Regions from separate parts of the Homo sapiens genome. Here region 2 is linked to region 1. The links come from fine-mapping of genetic effects on gene expression. A gene starts in region 1. The other region holds a variant in brackets. All regions are shown on one strand. Distances are between the middles of the regions.

Evidence for each region. PIP is the estimated chance that this variant, and not a neighbour inherited with it, causes the effect.
Region 2: its variant is the best candidate, but not a certain one, in a credible set for the expression of PCMTD2 in monocytes after LPS (Quach 2016, PIP 0.89).

The regions. Positions count from the first base shown.
Region 1 is chr20:64,253,439-64,258,816 of GRCh38, forward strand. It overlaps PCMTD2 (protein-L-isoaspartate (D-aspartate) O-methyltransferase domain containing 2), which reads left to right and starts at 2,310. Exons shown (of 6, transcript NM_018257.3): 1 at 2,310-2,432.
Region 2 is chr20:64,283,974-64,289,351 of GRCh38, forward strand. No RefSeq gene overlaps it. Among named protein-coding and RNA genes, the nearest start is that of PCMTD2, 31 kb to the left of the region's middle. RefSeq lists a silencer at 2,182-2,374. The variant G/GT (reference allele first, on the strand shown) is at 2,853.

The DNA of each region.
Region 1 (5,378 bases):
TCCACTTTTCTTCTTGGAGGTCATACTAGTACCTATTTCATGGAAATAACCCATGTAGAGTGCTCAGTATATACCCTGTGAAGGGTTATGAATGCTGATGGTAGTGGAAGCTGATGTGGAGGGGAATGGTGGAGACACCTTGGAAAACCAAGCAAGAGTCTGAAGTTGTGGCAGGCCGGGTCTCACTAACGCAGGCCTCCATTACAGCTGTCCCAGCACGGACTGAGTAGCCAGGTTAAACATTAAAAGCTGATTGAGCCAATGCCCTTATACAAAGGTTGGAATGTAACAAAGAGCCCACCAAGAGTTTTGCCTAGGCTCTTCCTGGGCCTTGAAGCATGACAAGATAACGAAGGAACTCTTAACAGGACCCTTTTTAGGATTAAACAAGTTGTATTAGGGATCTGAAGAAACTCCCCAGGCCTCCACAAACAAGTTTATGGGGGTCTAAAGGAATTCCCCATATCATTATGATTTAGCAGGAGACAAGATAAGGGTAATCACCCCAGCACCTAGACCCATTTAGATTAAGTAAACTTACTGAGGCTCCAGAAGAGGGTCTTCAGGACTCAACCTTAGTCATAGATTAAAAGAAGTTAATCACTTATGTCTGTAGATGAATGCACACTTACATGTAGACATACAGCTTAGAAGGTATACGAGCTTTGGAAAACTTTGTAATTTTGAGTTGGTATGGTGATAATTTCCAGGCCTTCTCCTTGTAACCGGTTACAGAAATAAAACCTCTCTTACTCTCCAGCTCATTTGCATCTTGTTATTGGGCCAGGAGAAGTAGTAGCCCGACCCTCAGTTGGGTCCAGGAACAAAGGGAGTGTCTGAAGACAGCAGTGATGTGATCACCTGTTTTAGGAGGACCACTCGCCAGAGCCCAGGGGAATGGTGGGAGGGGTGGGGAGAGGTGAGGGGAGCTGGGACAGGGCAAGGAGGGATGTATGGAGGACGTGTCCCCTGGCAGTAGGAAGAGAGTCAAGGATGACTCCAGGGCTTCTGTAATTTGAAACAGTCACAAATAACCACAAGCTCTCAGGTGGAAGGACACTGAGAGCCCCATGAAGGTCATGAGGTGGTGGGCCACCTCAGGTCCGTGGATCCAGGACCATGGATCAACAAGAGAAGTGAGGTCTCCCTGGGACCACATAACGTGGTGAAGGCACCGGCCTTTGGTTTTCAAACTCTGCTCCTAAGTGGAGCTCCAGGGTCTGGGGAGGAATGCCGAGTTAGGAGGGAGGCGGGAACCGGAGACCCAGGCCCACTCGTCCGCCCCAGCGACGCTGGCACTTGCACATATGAGGCGGCTTGCATGGCTGTGCTTGAAGAAAGGGTTCTGCAGCTACAGCCTATCTGCAAAGCCCCACGCGAAGTTTGGGCAATGGGCTGTGTGAACCCAGAAAATGGGAGACAGGTCTCAGTTAATTTACAAAGTTTATTTTGCCAAGGGTGAGGACGCGCCCGTGACACAGCCTCAGGAAGTCCTGACATGTGCCCAAGGTGGTCGGGGCACAGCTTGGTTTTATACATTTAGGGAGACAGGATACATCCATCGATACATGTAAGAAGCACATCGGTTCGGTCTGGAAAGACGGGACAACTTGAAGCAAAGGCAGGAAGACTCCAAGCGGGGAGGGAGCGTCCAGGCCACAGATAGGTGAGACACCAACGGTTAAATTCTTTTGAGTTTCTCATTTGCCTTTTCAAAGGAGGCAAATCAGATATGTATCTATCTAAGTGAGCAGAGGAGTGACTTTGAATGGAATGGGAAGCAGGCCTGCCCTAAGCAGTTTCCTGCTGGAGTTTTCCTTAGTGATCTTGGGGGCCCAGGATATCTTCCTTTCACAGCTGATTTCACAAAGCCGGCTGGGTAGGAGGGCCCCAGGGCCGGGTGGCCGTCCGCGTGGCAGGGCGGGGGTCCCAGGGCGGCTGTGCTTGGTGCTGGGAGGCCGCCCGAGGGCAGCGCCGGCCCCGAGTCAGCAGCCGCAGGGCACCCTGGAGATGCGGAACGCCCCCAGCCGTGGGTCAGCAAAGGCGTCTCAGGTGACCCTTAGGGAGGGCTTCTGAGGCAGCCCGTGCGGGGTCCGTCCTGGCTGAGCACTGCGCGGACGGCGCGCCCGCGAGACTCGGACCCGGCCTAGGGCTCAGCGAGCTCTCAGCGGGGCGGGCGGACGCAGGCAGCCCAGGGGAGTGGGGCCCGCCCTGCGCCGCCATCACCCCTTTAAGTGCCAGGCCCGCGGCGCATGCGCAGTCAGGCCGTTGTGCGCAGGCGCAGAGGCGGCGGCGGCGGCGGCGGCGGCGGATGTTTACGGCGGCCGAGGTTGGAGCGGCGCTGCTCGGCCGCGGACACACGAGGGACGCGCCCGAGGAGCTGCAGGTGGCAGCCCAGGCGGTCCGAACCCGTCGGCCGGCCGAGCCTGGAGGTAGAGCCGCCGCCGCCGCCGCCGCCCCTCGGTCCGGCCTGCGGCGAGCGGGTGGTGTGTCCCCTCGGCCCCTTCCCTCCTCCTTCCCCACCCCCGGCACCCCTGCGCCCGGAGCTCTCCTCTGGGGGCGTCGCTCCTCCCCACCTCGGGCACCCTCACCTCCCCCCAGCGGCCTCCAGGGCGTCCCGCGTTTCTCTCTCCGAGCGCTCGCGGTTTCCCGTCGGTCTCTCCCGGTGCCCGTTGCTCACTCACACTCTTGGGTCTGGTTAGTCCAGACCTGCAGCTTGTCTTTGACTTCCCAAGTGGGAAACGTTTGCAGTTCCAAGGCAAGCCAAGAGCTAAGGTTTAGAACAAAGTCTGCCTTGGACCCTTTCAGAAGATGACAGGATTTTTTAAAAAAATAATTGCGCCCCCCCGCCCCGTGCCTTGGAGATAGTAAGAATTGGAGCAGAGCACTGGGACTTCAATTCACGCATGGAAAGAGATCTTTGTTAGTTGGAGGAAGGAGAACTTGCCTGAGCTTCGGGCCTTTGTTTTGTTTTTGTGAGAGGGACGTGTCTCCTAAATGAATGTTTGCTCCAGCGTTGCACCTCAAATAAGTCACCTAAATATCCACGCCCTCTTTATCCACCCCCTCTTTACTCGTGTGACTAGAATAGTTTTCATTTTTCTTCTCAAGGGAATGGCTAAACAGCTCCTATCTGGGCGTTTGATAGACTGTCATTCAAGAATGAGTGAAGTTGAGGTGCCTATAAGCAACTCAGAAATTGTTGTGGCCACGCTTGGGGGAAATAGAGCCCTACACTCAGGTGATGAGAGGAGACCTCAGAGGTGACCGATCCAGGGCCTTGCTCCCTGCGCCACCCCAGCTCGTACCTCCAGTGGAACTTGGCTGGGCTTATCAAGAGCTCCTTTCATTCATTGCAACTTCATTTGTTAGAAAGCTTCTCTGTGTATTTAGTAGGCATTGTCTCCAACATGTACCACTGGTCTGGCTTTTGTTAGGCCCATTAATAGTGTACATGTGACAGCCTTTCAAGTATAGGTGCTCCCCGGCTTACGGTGGGGTCGCATCCCAGTAAACACATCGTTAAACCTGAAGTCGAACCATCCGAAGTCGGAGACCATCTGTATTTGAAAAAAGTCCCTTTGCATTGCTTGTAAGAGTTCTGGTTTTCAAGGTGAGAAATCTGTTTGTGTGTTTGTTTGATCATTCTGCCCAAAGGAGATGTGGCTTTGGGTCCTTTTCCCCACTCATCTTCCACAATGAATTACTTTGTCCATATTACCCTAAAGAAGTGACATCCAAGTTGGAATGTGATCTTCCGTATGTCGCCTCCCAAAACCCCACTACCATAGCTTCATGCTTGTGTTGACACAGCCACAATCACAACTCAGGTGTCAGTTCTGAGACCTTCCCATGCCTGTCGCCACTCAGCAAGTGTTCTTCATGTGCCCTGGCAGTTCGCATTGTAAGGAGCAGCCAGGTTGTTATGGACTGTTGCTAGTTACCACAGAGTAGTGAATTATATTAAGGATTAATTACAGCAGACAATGTGCACAGTATCATCGAGTGCAGCGTTCTAAAAATGATTCTACACTTTTACTTTGAAAAATTGGATTTGACCAGATTGTAGAATCTGGGTGAAAATGATAGGATTTGGTTTGGCGAAGAGCTTTGTTGTCGGTGTTTTTGGTGACATCATGACTGATCATATCGATGGTTTTCAGTGCGAGGGAGTGTTAGATTACCAGACAAAGATGGTAATAAATATCAGACCCCACAGCTATTCACATGGATCCTACCAGTGGCAATAGGTATAGATAGGGTTACCCCATCGTCAAAAGGTTACCGGTGTGTTGTGTGGTAAAGAACGTTGCTGTCTTGAGTATTTTTAAAAGCTGCACTGGTGTGGTATTAAAAACACAGGCCTTTTGCCATACAGTCCTGGGTTTGAATGCAGCCCCCTCCTCACAAACTGGCTATGTGATCATGAACAAATTAACCGGCCAGCTCCAATTTGCTTCTTAATGTTGTGAAGTGTAAATGAGGCCATGACTGGCAGGTGGTACCTGGAAAAAGGTGCTTGTTTTTACTAAAAAGCTGTCTGAACTTTCAAATTAAGGCAGAGTTCAAAATAAGTGATAGTTACTTAGTGGAAAATGAAACCTATCCAACATACAGTTTGAGGTTACCTTCTAGAGATGTGGCATTGAGACAATGTTGGAACATTATATACAGGCTTCTGGGTGAAGAGGTGGCTTTGACTGAGGACGGTATGCGATTTTCCAGCTCTTTTCCTAAATAGACCCTTAAGCATCCAAACACATGATTCCGCTTTTAACCACTGACCCAAATTTTAAGATGACTGTGGTAGGCTAGGGTGCAGCCTCAGAACTGAGTGGCTTATCCAGGATTAAAGTTGACCTCATTAGGACTTAATTCCATCTAAGTCTAAGTCAGCTGGCTGTGGACCGTAATCTAACAAGGGCTCCGAAACAATTCAAAAAATTCAAAAAGGGTGTGAAAATTTAATGACTGGACCATCCTATTGATTTGCAAAACCTAATATTCAGCTCTAAAATCTTGAGTGTGAAGATTGAGTGTTCCACCATAAAAATAGAAGAGAATTTGTGTTAAGCTATACCCTTCACACTTTTTGTTCACTTGTAAGAAACTATGTGATTATTTTCATTCCTGGGAAAACCTCCCACCGCTGTCTCCAGTTGTGTACGTGGGTGTGTATGAAATCCGCCCCAGGCCCCTTGTCACCCCACAGTATTTCTTTACGATCCTCATTCTACTGTTAGAAATCCAGAGGAATGTGAGGAGGAAAGCAAGTATAAACTTCATCATAATTATAACAAGTTGTTAAAAAGGTTGTGTTCATTTCAGAAAATGTCTTCATGAGGTCTGGTGGTCTTTTTCCCTGACAATTTGTATCT
Region 2 (5,378 bases), 31 kb after region 1:
AAATTTTCCTTACAGAAGGGTAACTTCTACTCTGGTTTTGGAACTTCCTTTGTTAGCATTTTTTTTCAAAATAATCATCTTGGAATAATTCTTATGCCAAAGGGACATATTTTGGGGTGGCATATTCTGGTCTTATACACTGTCTTCCACCAGCAATGAAAAGAGTTATTGTCTTTCTTGCAGCAATTTGTGATTTTTTTAGAGTTTAGCAGTTCTAATAGATATAGACCAGCTGTGCTATCTCCTGGTTTTCAGTTCTGTAGTATGTTGAGCATCTTTTTGTATGTTTACTTGCCATCTGTAGATCTTCTTTGGTGAGGTGTCTGTTCAGATCTGTGTGCATTTTTAATTGTGCTGTTTAACTTGTTTAGTTTTAAGAATTTTTTATATATTTTGAATACAAATTCTTTCTCAGATCTGTATTTTGCAAATATTTTCTTCAATATGTGGCTTGTCTTTTTGTTCTCTTAAGAAGGTCTCTTCCAGAGTATAAACTTTAAAGATTAAGAAATCCACATTGTCATTTCTTCTGTGTATATCAACCTTTTGTGTCATTTGTTAAAATTCATTACCAAATCCAAAGGCACATAGCTTTTCTTCTATAGTTTCTTCTAGAAATTGTATAGTTTTGCATTTTTAGTGTAAGGATGATTTTGAGTGGTTATTTGTGCAAGTTGTAAAGTTTTCATCTACATGCATATCACTTCTTATGGTTTCCAATTAATCATTCCCTCACTATTTTTGGAAAGACACAGGATAGTGGGCTCTGTTAGAGTTTATATATAGCTAGACATGAACAGGAGGGGAGCTCCTAGAAAAGGGAAAGTCTGGGAAGGCTCACCTGGAGGGACCACCAAAAATTCACATATTAGTAGCATCTCTAGTGCTGGAGTGCATGGGCACTTGTCAATTGTGAGTAGGAGGGAGAAGAGGTACCTATGCAGAAAGAAACACCCTAGAACTCCTCTTAAGATGCCCCAATCATCATTCACTCTGCAATAAAAATGTCAGAATATTGCTAGCTACATGCTGATAAGAAGGACAAAGGGGACATTCTTAAGAGAAACCTGGCACCATAAGTGCAGATTAGGGCAAAGAAGGACATTCAAAAGAGATAGGCAGGCACACTAGGTACAAACGTGACCGCTGTCAGCCTGCCTGGGATGGCGGGAAGGAGGCTGGTGCCAGAGTGGATTCGGATTGATACCACACATGTACCTCAACCAACAGTGAGGAGGTCCCACAAGCCTAAGTGTGGCAAGTCGGGGACCTAAGGCAGTAGCAGGAAAACCAGACAAAGAGAACAGGTGGAGACTTGAGACAGAGACAGGAATGTGAAGAAGTCCAAAATAAAATTCCCTGCACAGGACTCCTAGGATGTTTTCATGCACGATCAGCCCACTCCTCCCTATTTTTCTACAATGAGCTCTTTACACTGTATTTCTTTTCAATGAAGTTGTCTGCCATTTTTGTACTGCCTCTTGGTGAAAATCTTTCTTCCAAGTTAGACAAGAACTGGGACATCAGCTCTCCCTAGTACTAGCTCCGTTTCAGTTGAATTTACAGAACTGATGGGGCTTAAAAACTGATGCTCTGACTTTAAGTGGTGCAGGAGGCAGCCAGTAGGGGACGCCAACCGTCACACTGGGAGCAAGAGACCCCCGCCTAGTCCCCATCTGCCTGCAGGTGGCGTGCTGCCTCGACACTGCCACCAAGAGGGCCAGGCAGTGTCTCCAGCTGCCAGCAGGCGGCGTACGACGACTACACTGTGAGCAACAGGGCCCTGCAGTGTCCTTAGCTGCCAGCAGGTGTCATATGGGCACCACACCATGAGCAAGAGGACCCCGCAGTGCCCTGGTTGCCAACAGGGGGCGTGCTGCCACTACACTGTGAGCGAGAGGTTCCTGTAGTGCCAGCAGGTGCCAGAAGAGGGCGTGCCCCCACTGCACTGCAAGCAAGAGGGCCCGGCAGTGTCCCCAGCTGCCAGCAGGGGAGCCAGCCGCCACTACACTTTGAGCAAGAGGGCCTGGCAGTGTCCCCAGCTGCCAGCAGGGGGGTGTGCTGCCACCACACTGTGAGCAAGAGGACCCTGCAATGTCCCTAGCTGCCACCAGGCGGCGTGCCGCCGCTATACTGTGAGCAAGAGGCCCCTGCATTGCCCCGGCGCCAGCAGGGGGCGCTGGCCACCACTATAAGCAACAGAGCCCTGCAGCTGCCCTAGTCGCCAGCAGGGGGTGCACTGGCACAGCACCGTGACCAAGCCAGTCCTGTAGTGCCCAGCTGCAAGCAGGGGGCGGTCGAGCCCGGCTTTTCGAATTATTGAGGTTCCTCCCGTCTCTGCGCCACGCCGCTGCGACGGGCGTCTCCGCGCCTGCACCGCGCTCCCCTCCCCAGCACAGGGGCGTGCGACTGTGCTCCTGCACCACGCCACCCCAACCCAACCCCCGCCCGGCAGCGTGCTCTCTGCGCATCCGCCGCGCCTCCCCCGCACGTCGCGCCAGCCTGTGCGCGCCTGCGCCGGCGCGGTGGGCCTCTCTGTGCCCGCGCCGGCGTGGGGTGCCTTTGCGGGGGCAGAGCTGCGTTCTGCTTAACACAGACCCGGGGCACACCGCAAAGGTGGAGCAGCTTTCTCAGCACACACCTTGGGGGCACAGCCTCGCTTTGGGACAACTCGGGGCCGCATCGACAGTGAACAAAATCCTTTCTGTTTGCAGCCCTGAATAATCAGGGTTAGGGTTAGGGTTAGGGGTTAGGGGTTGGGGTTGGGGTTAGGGTTAGGGTTAGGGTTGGGTTAGGGTTAGGGTTAGGGGTTAGGGTTTAGGGTTAGGGTTAGGGTTAGGGTTAGGGTTAGG[G/GT]TAGGGTCAGGGTCAGGGTCAGGGTCAGGGTCAGGGTTAAGGGTCAGGGTCAGGGTCAGGGTCAGGGTCAGGGGTTAGGGTTAGGGTTAGGGTCAGGGTCAGGGGTTAGGGTCGGGGTCGGGGTCGGGGTCAGGGGTCAGGGGTCAAGGGTCGGGGTCAGGGGTCGGGGTCAGGGTGAGGGTGAGGGTGAGGGTTAGGGGTTAGGGTTAGGGTTAGGGTTACGGTTAGGGTTAGGGTTAGGGTTAGGGTAGGGTTAGGGTTAGGGGTTAGGGGTTAGGGTTAGGGTTAGGGTAAGGGTAAGGGTTAGGATTAGGGGTTAGGGTTAGGGTTAGGGTTAGGGTTAGGGTTAGGGTAGGGTTAGGGTTAGGGTTAGGGTTAGGGGTTAGGGGTTAGGGTTAGGGTTAGGGTAAGGGTAAGGGTTAGGATTAGGGGTTAGGGTTAGGGTTAGGGTTAGGGTTAGGTTAGGGTTAGGGTTAGGATTAGGGGTTAGGGTTAGGGTTAGGGTTAGGGTTAGGGTTAGGGTTAGGGTTAGGGTTTAGGGGTTAGGGTTAGGGTTAGGGTTAGGGTTATTGGTTAGGGTTAGGGTTAGGGTTAGGGGTTAGGGTTAGGAGTTAGGGTTGGGGTTAGGGTTAGGGTTCAGGTTCGGGGTTCGGGTTGGGGTTGGGTTTGGGGTTATGGTTAGGGTTAGGTTTTGGGGTTAGGGTTAGGGTTTGGAGTTAGGGGTTAGGGTTAGTGGTTAGCGTTAGGGTTAGGGTAGGGGTTAGGGGTTAGGCTTAGTGGTTAGGGTTAGGGTTAGGCTTAGGGTTAGATTACAATTTCTAACCTGTTTTATTTTGTTTTTTTTCTGAGACAGGGTCTCCCTCTTTTGTCCAAGGCTGGAGTGTGGTAGTGCTATCACAGCTGACTGCAGCCTCAACCTTCCAGGCTGAAGCGATCCTCCCATCTCAATCTCCTACGTGGCTGACACTACAGGTGCTTGCCACTATGCCCAACTAACATTTGGAATTTTCGTATACGTGGATTCTAGAGGGGTGACAGCGAAACGTGAGTAAGCATGGATTTTGGTATATGCAGAGATGGAGGGCTGGAACTAATTCTGTATACTGAGGGACGACGACTGTATATGTTTTTACAATTACGCTGTAGGATACATACTGTTGCATAGCCTTGAAAATAATAATTTTTAATTGAGTGGAATAAGAATAATATTGATAAAAGTAGCAGCTGGCCAGGTGTGGTGGCTCACACTGGTAATCGCAACACTTTGGGAGGCTGAGGCAGGAGGATGGCTTGAGGCCAAGAGTTTGCGATAGGCCTTGGAAACAAAGGGAGTCACCATCCCTACAGAAAAATACATGAATTAGCCTAGTGTGGTGGCATGTTCCTGTAGTCCCAGCTACTTGGGAGGCTGAGGTGGGAGGATCACTTGAGCCCAGGGAGGCTGAGACTGCAGTGAGTCATGATCAGGCCTCTGCACTCCAGCCTGGGTGACAGAGTGAGACCCTGTCTCTAAACAACAAAAAAGTAGCAGCTAACATCAACTGACCTTTTACTGAGTGCCTATGGATACCATAGTTTAATTTCTTATAACTGTTTCTTATTTTACTTACCAACTCTGTCTTCAGTTACTCCCAGATTTTTACTGTGTGTGTACAGATGACCTTTTGGAGGAGCCTCAACAGGCACAGCTCCTCCCTCATAGTGGCCCATTTAGGCCCAACTCATGACTGTCGGGCTATTTCCAGGCCTAGTGTCTGCCTCGTGGCTGACTGTTGAAGCCCAAAACTTCCTCAAATCAGCCTTTTGCCCAACTTCTGTCTACTGTCGGACTCTACAGGCCAGCCTCTGCCTCACAGTGGACCCTCCAGACCCAGATGGTGTCTCACTGTGGCATCCTCAGGCGAAGCTCCTGCCTTTTGGCAGCCTCTCCAGGCCCAGCTCCTCCTGCCTCCCAGTGGCCTCTTTCGGCCCAGCCCAGCTCATGGCTCTCGGCGGCCTTCCCAGGCCCCGCTTTTGACTTTTGGCAGCCTCTTCAGGCGCAGAACTTGATCTCCAGTCGGCCTTTGCAGGCCCGGCCTCCTGCCTCTCGAAGGCCTGCACGGGCCTGGCCTCGGCCTTGGCCTCACAGCGGACTCTCCACGCCCAGCTAGCTCTCGCCTCACTGTGGCCTCCCCAGTCCAAAGCTCCTGCCTTTCGGCCACTTCGGCAGGTCCAGCTCCTGCCTGCCAGTGGCCTCTTTAGGCCCAGCTCATTCCTCACGTCGGCCATTCCAGGCCCCGTTTTTCCCTTCCGGCAGCCTCTTGGCCTCTAATTTGTTTATCTTTTGTGTATAAATCCCAAAATATTGAATTTTGGAATATTTCCACCATTATATATTTTGGTAGGTAATTTATTTGGAGTGAGTTTCTGCACCATGCCCGAATTTTTTATTTTATTTTCCTTATTATTTGGTGTTAAACAGGTTTAATGACGGTCATGGCAACTTTTTGGCACAATGAAAAATATCGCCCATGATCAACGTGTTCT